Regions from separate parts of the Homo sapiens genome. Here region 2 is linked to region 1. The links come from fine-mapping of genetic effects on gene expression. Tissue or cell type: whole blood. Region 1 holds a variant in brackets; the other region holds the start of a gene. All regions are shown on one strand. Distances are from middle to middle.

What was found. PIP is the estimated chance that this variant, and not a neighbour inherited with it, causes the effect.
Region 2: it holds the start of SLC25A37, and the variant in region 1 is fine-mapped to the expression of SLC25A37 in whole blood (INTERVAL, PIP above 0.99).

Annotation. Positions count from the first base shown.
Region 1 is chr8:23,578,933-23,587,116 of GRCh38, reverse strand. No RefSeq gene overlaps it. Among named protein-coding and RNA genes, the nearest start is that of SLC25A37, 54 kb to the right of the region's middle. The variant GT/T (reference allele first, on the strand shown) is at 3,410.
Region 2 is chr8:23,525,439-23,533,622 of GRCh38, reverse strand. It overlaps SLC25A37 (solute carrier family 25 member 37), which reads right to left and starts at 4,667. Exons shown (of 4, transcript NM_016612.4): 1 at 4,411-4,667. The coding sequence starts at 4,620. RefSeq lists enhancers at 3,564-3,633, 4,924-4,973 and silencers at 4,134-4,383, 4,434-4,793.

The DNA.
Region 1 (8,184 bases):
AAGGAACGTCAAACGCCAAGGTAAGCCCAAATATATGCCTCTTGTGTCCAACAGTTAGCCAAGATGTGAATGCAAAGGAAAAGTTCTTGAAGGAAATTTAAAGTGCTGTTCAAGTGAACACACAAATGATAAGAAAGCAAACAGCCTTATTGCTGATATGAAGAAAGTTTTAGTGGTCTGGATAGATCAAACCAGCAACACCATTCCCATAAATCAAAGCTTAATTCAGAGCAAGGCTGTAAGTATCTTCCACTCTATGAAGTCTTAAAATTGTGAGGAAGCTGCAGAAGAAAAGCTTAAAGCTAGCAGACGTTGGTTCCTGGGTTTAGAGAAGAAGCCATCTTCATAACATAAAAGGGCAAGATAAAGCAACCAGTGCTGTTGTAGAAGCTGCAGCAAGCTATCCAGAAGATCTAGCTAAGATAATTGATGAAGGTTGCTACACTAAACAGCAGATTTTCAATGTAGATGAAACAGCCTTCTTTTGGAAGATGCCATCTAGGACTTTTAAAGCTATAGAGGAGAGTCAATGCCTGCCTTCAAAGCCTTCAAAAGACAGCCTGACTTTCTTGTTAGGAGCTAACGCAGCTGGTGTCTTTAAGTTGAAGTCAATGCTCATTTATGATTTCAAAAATTCTAGGGTCCGTAAGAATTATGCTAAATCTACTCTGCCTGTGCTCTATAAATGGGACAACAAAGCCTGGATGATAGCACATCTGTTTATAGCATGGTTTACTGAAGGTATTAAGCCCACTGTTGAGATCTACTGCTCAGGAAAAAAAGATTTATTTCAAACTATTACTACTCATTGACAATGCGCCTAGTCACCCAAAAGCTCTGATGGAGGTGTACAAGGATATTAATATTTTACGCCTGCTAATACAACATCCATTCTGCAGCCCATGGGTTAAGGAGTAATTTCAATTTTCAAGTCTTATTATTTAAGAAATACATTTCATAAGGCTATAACTGCTATAGATAGTAATTCCTCTGATGGATCTGGGCAAAGTAAATTGAAAGCCTTCTGGAAAGGATTCGCCATTCTAGATACCACTGAGAACATTTAGGATTCATGAAAAGATTTTGAAGTGTCAATATGAACAAGAGTTTGGAAGAAGTTGATTCCATTCTCAGGGATGACCTTCAGGGGTTCAAGATTTCAGTGGAGGAAATCACTGAAGATATAGTGGAAACAGCAAGAGAACTAGAATTAGAAGTGAAGCCTAAAGATGTAACTGAATTGCTGCAACTTCATGATAAAACTTTACTGGATGAGAAGTTGCTTCTAGTTTTTTTTGTTGTTGTTTTTGTTTTTCAGACGGAGTCTCGCTCTGTCACCCAGGCTGGAGTGCAATGGTGTGATCTTGGCTCACTGCAACCTCCACTTCACAGGTTCAAGCGATTCTCCTGCCTCAGCCTCCTGAGTAGCTGGGACTACAGGCACGTGCCATCACACCCGGCTAATTTTTTGTATTTTTAGTAGAGAAGGGGTTTCACCATGTTAGCCAGGACGGGTCTCCATCTCCTGACCTCGTGATCCACCCACCTCAGCCTCCCAAAGTGCTGGGATTACAGGCGTGAGCCACCATGCCCGACCAAGAAGTTGCTTCTTATGGATGAGCAAAGGAAGTGGTTTCTTGAGATGGAATAATCTACTCCTGTTAAAGATGCTATGAACATTGTTGAAATAAAAACAAAGAATTTAGATATCTTACACAAACTTAGTTGATAAGGCAGCAGCAGGATTTGAGAGAACTGGCCCCAATTGTGAAAGAAGTTCTACTTGTGGGTAAACGCTATCAAACAGCATTGCCTACTACAGAGAAATCTTTCATGAAAGGAAGAGTCAATTGATGCAGCAAACTCTATTGTTGTCTTTTTTTATTTTTTTTTTAGAAATTGACACGACAGTCCCAGTCTTCAGCAACCGCCACCCTGATTAGTCAGCAGCCGTCGGTATGAAAGCAAGACTTTCCACCTCCAAAAATATTGTGACTCCCTGAAGACTCAGATGATCACTAACACTTTTAGCAATAAAATATTTTAAATTAAGGGGTGTACATTGTTTTTTAGACGTAAGGCTATTGTACACTTAATAGACTGCAGTATAGTATAAATATAACTTTTATATGTACTGGGAAAGCAAAAAATTGTTTGACTCACTTTATTGCAATATTTGCTTTATTATGGTGGCCTGGAATCAAATCTGCCATATCTTTGAGGTATGACTCTATAGCCAACTGATCTCAGACAAAGGAGCAAAGGCAATACAATAGAAACAAGTAGTGCTTTCAACAAGTGGTGCTGGAACAACTGGACATCCACAAGCAAAAAAAAAAAAAAAATGAATCTAGTCACAGACCTTATGCCCTTTACAAAAATTAACTCAAAATGGATTGCAGTCCTAAATGTAATATGAGAAACTACAACATTCCTAGAAGATGACATAGAAGAAAATGTAGACGACCTTGGGGTTGGCAATGCCTTTTTAGATAAAAACCAAAGGCAGGATCCAAGAAAGAAATGATAAGATGGACTTTATTAAAATAAAAATTTCTGTTCTGCAAAAGACACTGTTAAGAGAATGAAAACCCAAGCCATAGACTGGGAGAAAATATTTGCAAAAACATATTTGATAAAGGACTACTATCCAAAATATACAAAGAATCTTTAAAACTCAACAATAAGAAAACAAACAACCTAATTAAAAAATGGGCCGAAGACCTTAGCAGACACCTCACCATGAAGATGTACATGTGGCAAATACACATATGAACAGACGCTGCACATCATATGTCCTCAGGGAAATACAAATAGAATGAGATCCCAGTAAAAACCTATTAGATGGCCACAATCCAGAACACTGATGACACCCAGTGCTGATGAGGATGTGGAACAACAGGAACTCCCATTTGCTGTTGATGGGAAAACAAAATGACACAGTCATTTTGAAAGACAGTTTTGGCAGGTTTTTTATTTTTTTATTTTTTTTTTGAGACAAAGTCTCGCTCTGTTACCCAGGCTGGAGTGCAGTGGCATGATCTTGGCTCACTGCAACCTCTGCCTCCCGGGTTCAAGTGATTCTCATGCCTCAGCCTCCCAAGTAGCCGAGATTACAGGCGTGCACCACCACACCCAGATAATTTTTTATATTTTTAATAGAGACGGGGTTTGGCCATGTTGCCTAGGCTGGTCTCAAACTCATCGGCTCAGGCAATTTGCCTGCCTTGGCCTCCCAAAGTGCTAGGATTACAGGCGTGAACCACCGCACCCAGCCCGGCAGTTTCTTACAAAGCTAAGCAGACTGTTACCTAAGATCCAGCAATTGCCCTCCTTAGCATTTCCCAAAGGAGTTGAAAATCTATGCTCACACAGGAGCTACACATGGATGTTTATAGCAGCTTCATTT[GT/T]AATTGCCAAAACTTGAAAGCAACCAAGATGTCCTTCAGTAGGTGAATGAATACATGGAGTACATCCAGACCAGGGAACATTATTCAACAACAAAAAGAAATAAGCTATCAAGACATGAAAGGACATGGAAGAATTTTAAATGCATGTTACTAAGTTAAAGAAGCTAATCTGAAAAGACTACATACTTTGTATGTTTCCAACTACCTGACAGTCTGGAAAAGGCCAAACAATAGAAACAATAAAATGATCAGCAGTTGCCAAGGGCTACCGGGAAGGAGGAAAGAATAAACAGACTGCAGAGGATTTTTAGTACAGTGAAACTATTCTGAATGATAGTACAGTGATGGATACAAGCCATTATATATTTGTCCAAATACATAAAATGTACACCACCAAGAATGAACCCTAATGGAAACCATGGACTCAGAGTGATAACGATGTGTCAATATAGGTTCATCAGTTATAACAAATGCATCGGTCCGATGAGGGATGTTGCCAGTGGGGGGATAATGCGTACATGGGAATGCGTTATGGAAAAAATCTAGTATCTGCCTATCAGTTTTTCTGTGAACTCAAAACTGCTCTAACAAAATAAAGTCTATTTTTTAAAAAAGTTTTAGACATATAGACCCTACAATAAAAAACATCATGGAGGCCAGGCACACTGGCTCACGCCTGTAATCCCAGCACCTTTGGAGTCCAAGGCAGGTGGATCACAAGGTCAAGAGATCGAGACCATCCTGGCCAACATGGTGAAACCCCCTCTCTACTAAAAATACAAAAATTAGCTGGGCGTGGTGGCACGCACCTGCAGTCCCAGCTACTCAGGAGGTTGAGGCAGGAGAATCGCTTGAACCCAGGAGGCGGAGGTTGCAGTGAGCTGAGACTGCGCCACTGCACTCCAGCCTGGCAATAGAATGAGACTCCATCTCAAAAAAAAAAAAAAAAAAAAAAAAAACATGGAGAATATACAATGTGCCTTCCTATAGTAACAGACTGTGGGAAAATAAGGGCATCACATTCCATGAGCTGCTGGCAAACAAGACCCATTTTGTTTCAAGCACTAGGCTGGAGGGCTTGGACTGTACCAGAGACCAACAGTCCCCACACAGAGTTCAGAAAGATATATAGGCAAATAAATTATTTACTTGCAAGTAATTAAAAACATATTAAAGAAAAGGATGTGAAATAGTCACATCCATCATTCTCCTATATCAAGTTCCTGGATTTTAGTCTTTATTTGTAGAGTAGTTTAGGAAGAGGGAAGTGAGAAGAAGTAAAGCAAAATGGTAATGAATGATTCTTTATGGTAGGTAAGTTAAAAGGCCTGTGAGATTTTCCTTCTAATTTCATCTAAAAAGCATGTAATCATATTTTAATCATAGACTTAGAGGCTAGATAGAGCCTGTACTCTGTGGACATTATTACAGGCTAGAGAAGCTAGAGGAGTTATTATTACACATCATCTGGCCCAATCCTTTCATTTCGCAGCTGAGGAAACTGCAGACCAGAGAGATTAAGTGATATACCCAACATCACCCAAGATCACTCAACCAGTTTAGTGACCTGCAGGACTAGCATCTAGGCCTCTGACCCATCTGTTATATGCTCAATGGCTAAAATGGACCAGAGCAAACAAATCACTTCATTATATGAACCAATAAGAAAATTATCCTTGCATTGGAATCCTCTCAAAGGTAATTGTATGCTTTTCAAATGTGGCTTTGAGAAACTTGCTGATCTTAAAAACAAAAGAATTATAGAAGCCAAGGTGGACATTCAAGAGAGCATCAAGAAACAAAGATTTTGATGGAAGTCAAAATCAGCAAAAATAATCTCTTCAAGATAGGAAGCTGGATCAGATTAAGTGTGACAGTAAGAGTCTAAGGACGTTTGTTAAATGAGTGCTCTTGACAACCCAAGCTCATTGGAACACCAGGAGGCTTAGAACTTCATGTTCCATTCTGTGTAAAGGAAGTTTTTCTACCATGATGAGTAATAGGCCCAGGGTTTAGTTCATTCTTCCCATCTAGAACATTCTTTTCTCCTGGCTGCTCTTCCCAGTATGACTGCCTCTCAGTCTCGTTAACCATAACCCCCTTCATGTGTAATTTATCCAGATTTTACTCATTTGTGAGCTTGAGGGGAAATGTGAGAGGGAGTCATGCAGGACAATTTGCCCTCAGACGTTGGACCCTACCTAAAGATTGTGAAATGACCATGGAGTTCCATTGTTATGGATATACACGAAACCCTGAATGGATCACTGGATGTGCTAGAGACTATGCAAAAACCCAAGGAAGCTCCTAGCACTTAGGTATTACCAGTTTCCAGGCTGGTGATGTTTTTGTAGTCTTAGACCAAAGCCGCTGAAGCTTGGGCATTGGCCTTGAGTCCTCAGGTTTTTCTGTTGCGGTCAAGGACTCTCAATGTTGAAAGTGCTAATAGAAAGCAGCGCCCATTAAAGTCTCATGAAGCCCAGAGCTACAGACAGAAGACATTATGAATATCCATAACTATTTACATTAAAATTTGCACATTGATATGGTTTGGGACTGGGCGGGGTGGCTCACACCTATAATCCCAGCACTTTGGGAGGCCGAGGCGGGCGGATCATTTGAGGTCAGGAGTTTGAGACCAGCCTGACCAACATGGTGAAACCCCATCTCTACTAAAAATACTAAAGTTAGCCAGGCGTGGTGGCACACACCTGTAGTCCCATCTACTTGGGAGGCTGAGGCAGGAGAATCACTTGAACCCAGGAGACGGAGGTTGCAGTGAGCTGAGATCATGCCACTGCACTCCCGCCTGGGCAACAGAGTTAGACTCCATCTCAAAAAAAAAAAAAAAAAAATATATATATATATATATATATATGGTTTGGATTTGTGTTCCCACCCAAATATCATGTTAAATTGTAATCCTCAATGTTGGAAGTGGGGCCTGGTGGTAGGTGACTGGATCATAGGGGCAGATTTCCCCTTTGGTGTTGTTCTCATGATAGTGAGCTATCACAAGATCTGGTTGATTAAAAGTGTGTAGTGCCTCCCACCTCGTTCTTTCTTCCACCTGCTCTGGCCATGTAAGACAAGCCTGCTTCCCCTTTACCTTTCGCCACGATTGTAGCTTTCCTGAGGCCTCCCTGGCTATGCTCCCTGTACAGCCTGTGGAACCGTGAGCCAATTAAACCTCCTTTCTTTATAAGTTACCAGTCTCAGGTATTTCTTTATAGCATCAGTGCAAGAATGAACTAATACACACATTATTTATTTCTAAACTTTATGCAGACACAATCAGGGAAAGATTGAGGATGTGCTGGTATATTTCACCAGCTGCTTGCATTAGGCTCAACGTAGAAATCTTGGGATATATATTTATCACCTGTCAATCCAAGCTAAAGGTGTCCATCAAGAGAATATTTTCACTGTTCAGCAGGCAGCAAGAACTCCTTCCACGAACTCACATACTGATGAGGACAAACACCCTTGGTACATATCTCCCTTTGTTCTTTTTAAACTCCCTCTTCCCTTAAAGGCAGCCACCCCAAGGGGCAGCATGACAATAATGAAGAAGCCAGATGTCCACAGTCCCTCTTTCTGCAGCTCTGGGCTTCATGAGGTTGCAGTCGGGTGCCCATTCAACACTGAGAGCACTTCACAACAATAGAAATACACCAGGACTCCAAGGCGACACCCAAGCTTCAACTGCTTCAGGTTGAAGACTAAAACATCACTGGTATGATTTTGATTTATACTTTTTGTCACAGACGAGTTTCTGCTGACAGTGGACAGGGGTTGGGCTGTCTGTCTCTGCTAAAGTGGCCCTTGTGTCCTCTTAGCAGTAGTGCTGGGTGCTCTGCCCAGAGTCTCACTTACTATGGAAAATGAAACATCAAAGCTACCATAGGTAAGTATGAGCATAAGGAAAGAAGAGCTTCTTAAAGAAGCTATGGCAACAGGAACCTGGAAGTCTGGAATTGTGTAATATCCATGGCTTCATAAAAGAGAGGTCACATGTTTACCAAAATAACATTACCTTTAGGAGGCAAGGCCAGAGAAATGGGGAAGCTCAGAAGTATCCTAAATTTGATAAATGTATTGGGAATAAAGATCTTATGGTATGTTGCTGGGGACCGTTAAAGAAATTTCTTTCCTACAAAAATACCAGGACAGCCAGGATTGTCTATAAACCATTTAATTTCTTGATAGATATCGTTTGTTTTCCAGCTTTTCACTTTCATGAACAAGCCTGGGATGTGCAGTTTTGAGTGTTTGTCTAATTATTGCCTTTAGGTAGCCTCTGAAATATTATGCTAGATACAGTAGGAATGGTGCTGGGTGCAGGGGGTCAGGGGAGGGGGAGGTGTGGAAGCAGCTGAACTTGGTGAAGGTGACATTTAAAAGGGAATCCAAAAAGGCAAGAGAGTAAGTGCAGGGAAAAACAAACCGGGAACAAAGAAGACAAGAGCAGGGAGAGACAATGTAGGTTTTTGTTTTTTTTTTTTTAATAGCTTTGGTTGCTTATATTTCACTCCTAAGCTTGTAGAACTGATTACTACCCCTCCTCTGTAAAAGCCTCACCTCTTGGTTACTTCATAACTCTCTGACCACTCCAGCCTCTCCTGGTTCCCATTTCTCTCTTCACTATTAAATGTAAGCCTTCCACGAGATTGTTTTTCTCCCTAGGGACTCTCCTCTGCCCATGGCTTTGGCCACCACATCCCTTGGCCTATATGCCAGGTCCTTTGTTCCAGTTCCAGCCTTTCTCCTGACC
Region 2 (8,184 bases), 53 kb after region 1:
TGAGTCAGAAGAAGGAAACCCCTGAAGTCAGAGAGAGTCAGAAGCCCAAGACTAAAAAACAGAGAAAGTGGAACTGATTCCCCAAGACTGGTCACTGCTGCAAGACAGGACAAAACTCATCTCTAATGAGATGGCCACATGCAGCTGAAACGTGCCCAAGTGGAAGCCAGGAAAAGGTTTGGGAAGCACATTCCTCCCTTCCAGGTGACACGCACATCCCCCACCCCAGGTGCACACCCCTGTATAGTTTAAGCAAAGCAGCTGATTAAATCCTCCCATTCAACCCCAAATACCTCTCCCTACTAAAAAGCTGAGGCCCCCTTTGCTGTTCACAGTACTCTTGGGCACGCGCCTCCAAACCACGCTCCAGCCTGCCCCTCCCCAATTTAGGGCAGAGAAAAGTGGATGAGGTTCTCACACTCCTCAGGGTAGGCCTGAGGGGTACAGGCCATGGCTGCCTGGGGGTTCATGAAACAAGGAACAGGACTGCAGCTCACAAATACCCCTTTTTTGATTCCTCGTTCCAAATTCGCCTTTTAAGAAAATCACCTCTCATCAAAGGAGAGAAAAGAAGGGAGCAGGGGGATGTGAGGGAGAGGAGACAAGAAGGGAGAGAGAAAAATCATTATAGTTTTGTCCCAGGAACTAGAGCAATTTGGGATTTCACGCCCTTCTGAAGCTGAATGGCATGGACCGAACTGCACTTTGTTTGGAAAGCAATGAAGTGGGTGGGAGGGGACTCTGGCAGCTGCCTGCACTGCCCCCCAGCACCCTTCCTACCAGTCTGCCTGCAGCCAGGAGAAAACTCAGAAGAGGAGAAGTCAGAAGTTGAGGTAATGCTCTGCTGAGCTGGGCAGGCTGGCTGTGCACACCATAAGGTCAGCCAGGAGGCTCCTAGAGGGAACGCTCCGTGGTGCACCAACCTGGGAAGGAGGGCTCATCCTAGGAGAGTCACAGGCAGGGTTTCCCCCAACAGCAAAGCAAAAGAAGGGTTGTGAAAGGGTCAGCGGAAGTCCCCCGGCTTCAAATCTTTCCTGTTTCCTTCTGCCCCTGCTTTCCCCAGGCGGGACTCGGCATGGTCTCCGAGTGGTGTGCCTAATCTGGTTGGAATTTCCTCCTCCACCCACCTGGCATGCTCCTCAAGTCTTGAGCTCTCCTGATCAGACCAGGGGTTCTTGTATCCACCCCAAGTGCCCCTTGCCACTCTGGAACACCAGAAAGAGGCTCATGGAAAACCTGCCACCAGACCCCGCCTAGACAGGAGTAAGTCATTGCCACCATTTGGTGAGAGCCCTGCAGAGACCCTATACTCCCTCCCTGGGTATCACTTTGCTGCTCACTGTCATCGCAGGGGCAGCCAAAGGTCCCAGTAGACTGGCCCTTTATGGATGAATGAGTGCTCACATCCCACCATGGGAGGACCAAGGGAAAGAAGAAGACACAGGAAGCAGCAGGAAAGTTGCCAAAGGTCTTCCAAATACCCATTTCATAATCTCAGTGTTGCCTGCTGGGGCTCCAGAGATATTTTCTCAGGTTCAGTGGTTTTCATATTTGTTTGACCACAACTCCCAGCCAGAAGTACATTGTACACGTCTGTAAAATGCACTCAGAGACACACACACAACCCAAACAGAATTTCAACATTTCTCCCACTGCATGCCAGGCACACCCGTATTTTTACACTCTCACTAATAACTTCTTTTATTTATTTATTTATTTTTAAATGCAGAGTCCACTAATGGGTCATGGCCCACCATGTAAAAAACACTAGTTATTAAAGTGACACTGGGGATGTGAGGTGTGACCTCACGAAGAAGCAAATTTAATATTATAATGGGAAGCATCCACCAGGCCGACTTTGCACTTAGAACTGCAAAATAAGTAGCATCAGGTTCAGGGTTGAAAGTGACCAGCACAGAGCTCCACAGTCCACATTACCTAGGATAGAAAAAAGCCAGCCGATTCAACATTCTTATTTGTCATTACAAGATCAAAGTTAAAAATGGCGCCTTTCAAAACTGGAGAAAGCTTTCTCTCTTTCAAGATCCGATTTACATAGATTTGTTTTCAGCTGTAATAATTCTTTTGATATTTCAAGTAACATAAAAGAGGACGATGGGTGTTGTGTGTTCAGAGAAACGAGGCATGGGTTAAAAATGTGGAGAGGGACTGAGCAGGTCCACTGTCCCCACTTTATAGTGACAAAACTAAGGCACAGAACAGTGCCCGAGGCATGAAGCAAGTGAGAGCAGGGCTTGAAGCCCAACCCGGGTTTCTTGACTCAGTTACTCCCGGTCTTCGCCATCATCCAAAATACTTAAGAGGAACACAGGTGTGGTCTCCCCCAAGCCTTTCCATGATGGAGGATGCACCCCTGACTCCTCATGCTTGGCAGACAACTGTGCTGATGTTGGCAGACCTTGGCACTCAGTGGCAGCCTCAAAACCAACCCTGCACACTTCAGCATGGAAGGGCCCCTAAGGGTCAGTTATAATCCCAGAACCTAGAAGACTTCACTGATTAGCTAACCCACGCCTTGTTTTACAGACTTGTCTAGGAAAACCAGACCGGCTCCTTCTACCATTCACACCATGTTAACCTGTCCACAGGTGAAAACTGCTATGGAAAGTAATACTAAGTATACAGGTGACATCTGAACCAAAACATATCAACATGTATGGGGCAGGGAGAAACTAAACACAGATCACACAATTTAAACGTGTGAGAAACGCCTCTTGAGAGTGTCAAAGGGTGCTCAGAAGGCACAACTAATTATTTCTAATCCTAAAAATAAGCTAAAATGATGCTCTAAAGTGAACTCACTGTGGGGTTCCCGAATAGAACATTCATCTCAAGACACCAGTAGGACTAGGGCCTGCTCAGATAACACCTCCCTGCTCCTAACTTTCCCCAGACTCTGCCCAGGGCAGTTGAGACAACAGCTTCAATCATGGAGAATTTTATTACATTTGAGGGATTCTTTCCCATACAAATGCCACCTGGTATCAGTCCAGTGTCTTTCCTGGAGATGAGAACCATTCCTCTAACTCCCCACTGGGACACTGGAGGGACATATGGGTGATGGCTCAGGCTTAGGTCCAGCAGCACCTTGGAAGCCCATGTCTTTCCTCACTGGACTTCTGCCTGTCCAGACACTGACTGCTGGCTCCAAGCGAGCTCCCCGGAGCCGGGAAAACCCTCTGAGTTATACTTTCTGGCCTTCATACCTGCTCATGCAGGACCAGCATCAGCAACAAGATAAAGCTGCTGGGGGTGCCTCTGTGGGACCTGCCTTGCAAAATAATTGCCACCTAGAGAGGCCTCCGAATCCTCCAAAGCACACTGCAGCTGCAGCCAGAGGATAGGAGGTGGTGTAGGAGCCTGGGCAAGGTAATCGGTTCGCCTCTCTGCGCCTCAGTTTCTTCATCTGTTAACCCCCAGGGCTGTTGCATGAATTAGGCGAGTTATGCCTATAAAAGTGCAACGTGTAACAGTCAATACTGGCATTACTTCCTGCACTACTCTATCCTGGCCCTGGGGTGTTCTGGGCAGGCTGACAGAGGGCAGGTCTCAGTCTACCAGGCAAAACGCACCTAGTAACGCTGCCTCTTTACAGAAATGCAGTTAAAACTACCGGGGCAAGTGACAGACAGGGTTTAAAGGAAACTGAGTGCCTCTCACACAATCCACAGCAAGGGCTGTAAGGCACAAGCCCACCCACCTCCCCGCAAGCAAAAGGAGAAGGCAAACGTCATTGCCTCCCGGCGGCTCGGCGACCCAAAGTCGGGGGAAGAAGTGCAGGAACCCTCAGAAAGGGGATCCCACGGGCCGCTGTCGAACCGGTAAAGAGCTGCCACTAGTCGAGAGAAGACTTGCCGGCCCCAAGTTCCCGAAATAACCCGGGGAGCAGCAGCCACACACCAAGTCCCGAGGGCGCGCGGCCGGGCCAGGGCCACACGTTTCTCAGCTCCAGCGTGGTGAGGGCTTCCCCTGCGGGGAGCTCCCTCGGAAACCGCGCACGTGTGGGCGGCCCCAGCCAGCCCGAACGGCCAGCGTGGTAAGACTGTGCAGAGCTTCAGCGATCGCGTCCCCCGGGAGCCCAGTCGCCGCCGAAGCCAGCGGTGCTCGCCACTCCGCCTCCCCCGCCTCAGCGCCGCCAGCAGCCGGGGCCGGGCACGCGGCTGGAGCAGCGGGCGGTGCGGGGCGAGGACCGGGCACCCTCGCGGGGTCGGCGGAAGGCGCGGCGCCCAGGCTGCGCGCAGCTGCTCCTGGGGCGACCCCGGCCAGCCGCGGTCCTGGGGAGAGCTCGGTTTCGGGACGCTGCCCCGAGGCTGCCGGCGCGCGGGATGCAAATGCGCGCGCGCGCTCCTTCTCCGCTCGTTGCGTCCCCGAAGTCTCCCCGCGCCTCACCTTCACCGAGTCCACCGGGTACATGACCGAGTGCTCCAGGATCCCGGCCATCGCTCCTGCTGTCATGTGGGTGGACACGGAGGCGCTAGTCGGCAGGTTCTCGTAGTCCTCCGACCCGGTGGCGTCCTTGCCGCCGCCGCCATCTCGGCTGTCCCCATCCATCCTCCGCGCCACCGCCTGGCTGCCCACGCTCCCGCTGCGCAGCTCCATCCGCCAGCTCGGCGGGGCGCAGGAGGCTGCAGGAGGTGGGCAGGGAGGGGGAGGGGCGCAAAACTTCACTTCTTAAAGTGGGAGCCACCTCCCCGGGGCCGCGGCGCCTGACGCCATGGCGGGCTGGGGTGGAGCGCAGCGGCCAGAGACACCAATCGCCGGGAACCAAGAGGCCGGCGGCCGCCGCGCCATTGGTGTGCGGGACAGTGGGGACCCGCCTCCCTGTGTGACGTCACCGTCCCGTGCACATTTCCAAGCAACCGGACGGGGGCGAGAGGAGACGTGGGGTGGCCCGGAAAGTTGTACTATCTTGAGGATGGGCTGGTCCGCGAGGGGCAGGGGAGGTCATTGGGGAGGGGCCGCAGTGGGGTATGCCCAGAGCTGGAGGCATGGGTGACAGTGTCTCGGGGAAAATCCGTCCCCGTGGCGGGTGGGTTTGCAAACAGAATCGCTCAGTGAGCTTTGGCATTCCTAAGGCCTGAATTCAAACCTCAGGGGCCCGTTCTAGACTGCTTTGTTGGAGAGACCCCCATTCATTCGAAATTGTTTCTCTCAACCTAAATACATAATGCAGAGCTAAATGTGTTCCTCTTGTTCTCACCGAGAGACCGAACCCACCCTGCCCTGGACCGAGCAAGGCTATAAGGAGTGACCAGGAGGGAGCCCCTCTGAGTAGGCACCTCCAGGAAATTTTCTTTGGGTTTGATAGGCCCATAAGGTCTGTAGAGGCCTGATCTCACAGTTAGGAGTGTGAACTGGCTGAGAGTAAAATCTTACAGCCTTGCCCCTGCCTGTCTTAAGACTGTGGTCACCTAGTTCTTAAAGTCGTCCTAAGCTGGCCTCTTCAATAAAGTGTAACCCAGGCTGTTTTAATATTGTTTTGCTCCAGTCTGGGGAAAAAGGGAGAAATCAGAAAGTAGGGGAGGGACCTGTCTGCCTCTGGAAGTGTCCGTCTAAATTGCGTGTTCCAGGGCTTAAGATGACTTGGGCTGATCAACTTGTAGGCACCAGGGCCTCCCTGCCTTATCTAGACAAGGCTTCTCGTCAGGAAAGCTGGATCCTGAGATATGAAAGGGTGGGGAAGACCCTGAAGAGGCTGAGCCTACTCTCTGCCCTCACCGTGATCAGCATCCCAAGCAGCTCTTAGGGATTTGAGATACAGTAATGTGAGCATGGGTAGAGGTCAATAGAGGCGTCAGGACCAAGAGCACTGTTTGCCTAGTTTTGGTAGCTGCAGATAGTAGCTGGCAAGCTGAGTGCTAAGGATGTGATAAGTAAAAACAGGCTCTGTGTTTTTACTTAGCCATCTCTGTAATGGCTAGAGAAAACTCTACTTTTGTCAAAGGTCGTTTTTAAGAAATACTGATCAGAAGCTGTTGATCCTTATTTTTAAGTGGATGCCCTTTAAGCATTAAGTCTGTAAGAACCCACTGCCCCACTTCTGGGAATGTAACAAAAACCCAAATACACAGGAAGCTCTTCTTCAAAGCATTCCTTAGAGCAGTAAATCATTGGAAACAACCTAAATGGTCAACCAGAAGGGAATGGCTAAGGAAATTATGATGTGTGCATAATATTAGTGAAATATTATGCAGCCTTTACAAGTGGAATTTACATTACACGACATGGACGATGATTATAATGTAATGTTAGGTGAAAAAAACAAAACGAAATTCTATAACCATTGCATTCACAAAGATGTAAATGTGCTCAGGAAAAGAATCGCATGGTTACTGTGCTAGTGATGGAGGCTTATAGGCAACTGCTTTGACTTTATTTTTCAGACTTTAAATAATACTTTTATTATTTCTGTAATTTAAAAATAAAAAACCATTCTTTTTAGGAAATATATACCATATTTACACATACATACACACATCTATATATAGAAGTATATATGTATAGAATATAGATATGTGCATATGTATAAGATATATAGATAGGATATAGAATATACACATATGTACATATATAAAATATGTTGATTTGTGTATATAAATATATATAGATATATGTGTATATATAAATGTATTTTTTTACTTAGCCTCTCAGCATTCATATCCATGTGTATATATAAAATATATATACATTTTATGTATAAATATGTACATTTTATATATATAAATTTTATATTTTATGTATGTTTTATATAAATTTTATGTTATATATATTTTATATAAATTTTATATTATATATTTTATATAGATTTTATATTTATATATATTTATATATTTTTTATATTTATATATATTTATATATATTTTATATTTTATATATATTTTATAATTTATATAAATTTTATTTTATATATATTTTATAATTTATATAAATTTTATATTTTATATATAAGATATATACACGTCTATATATTTTACACATATTTAATATATACCTATGTATATATGATATATACACCTATGTATACATATATACATCTATGTACATATATACACCTGTTATATATGTATGTATATTATATGTATACCTATATTATATATAATACATATGTATAAGATATATTTTATATATATATACACACACACACACACACACACCTCCTAATGGATGAGAAACCCCCTGAACTTTGCAATGGTGATACCAGTGGAAAGAAGTTGCCTTTTGATGGTTAAGAGAATTCTTAGCAAATGTGAATATGCCCATAATCTTCACAGACGTGATTTTTGTTTAATTTCATTAAATAAATGTTAGAAACAGTTGAAAATCTTTGGAATATTGATTATTTAACAGAATTCAATATTTTTTTCTCCCCACCTATGGTAGATATGGTGGTTTGGCACTTAGCATCTTGCACTCCTCCTTGGACTGCAGTGGCCAGAACATGTAAAGCCACATTTCTCAGACTTTCTTGCAGCCAAGGGTCTAGCCATGAATTATATTCTGGCAATAGATGAATTGGAAAGATCTGGAAAGTGAACATGAGCTGAAGCTCCCTTCCTGTTCTTTGGTGTTTTCTGCTGCCTAGCAAGGTCACAGACACTTGAGGCAGGAACAGTTGGGGCGGGCAGTGGGTTCCCCACTGCAACAGCATGGCAGTGTTTGGTCACCAGATTCATGGATGCTGAGAGGTATTTATGGAATGAGGGGGTGCAGCAGTGATAAGTGGCAGCCTCCCGATCCCCGCACCGTGACTTTGTAGGTGGCCTTCTGATTCCTTGCCTTTGAGGCCATGGCAGAGGTAGCCAGTCCCTTGGGAAGCCAGTTTGGCAGTGTGGATCTGTGCCTAAACCCCTCCCCACGGTTTTGTGCATAGCAGTGAAAGGGCATAGTAATGAAGGCGCCATCCCGGATGTCACAAGGCAGCAGCCGGTCCAGCTCCCAGACCTCTAGGGAAGGCATGCTGCGAGAGGGTGGCATCCCAGACAGCATAACCCAGTGCTTGGGCCACACTGCCATCAGGAAGGGAGCAGCTCTCTCTTTGAAAGGCAAGAACATGGCAACCAGGAGCAGAGGAGTGGCAGCTCATTTGGTCCTCTCCCATGGGGCAGGCCAGGAAGCTCAGAATGACTTGTTGCTTCTATCGGAGTCTTTCGTAAAGTTCCTGAA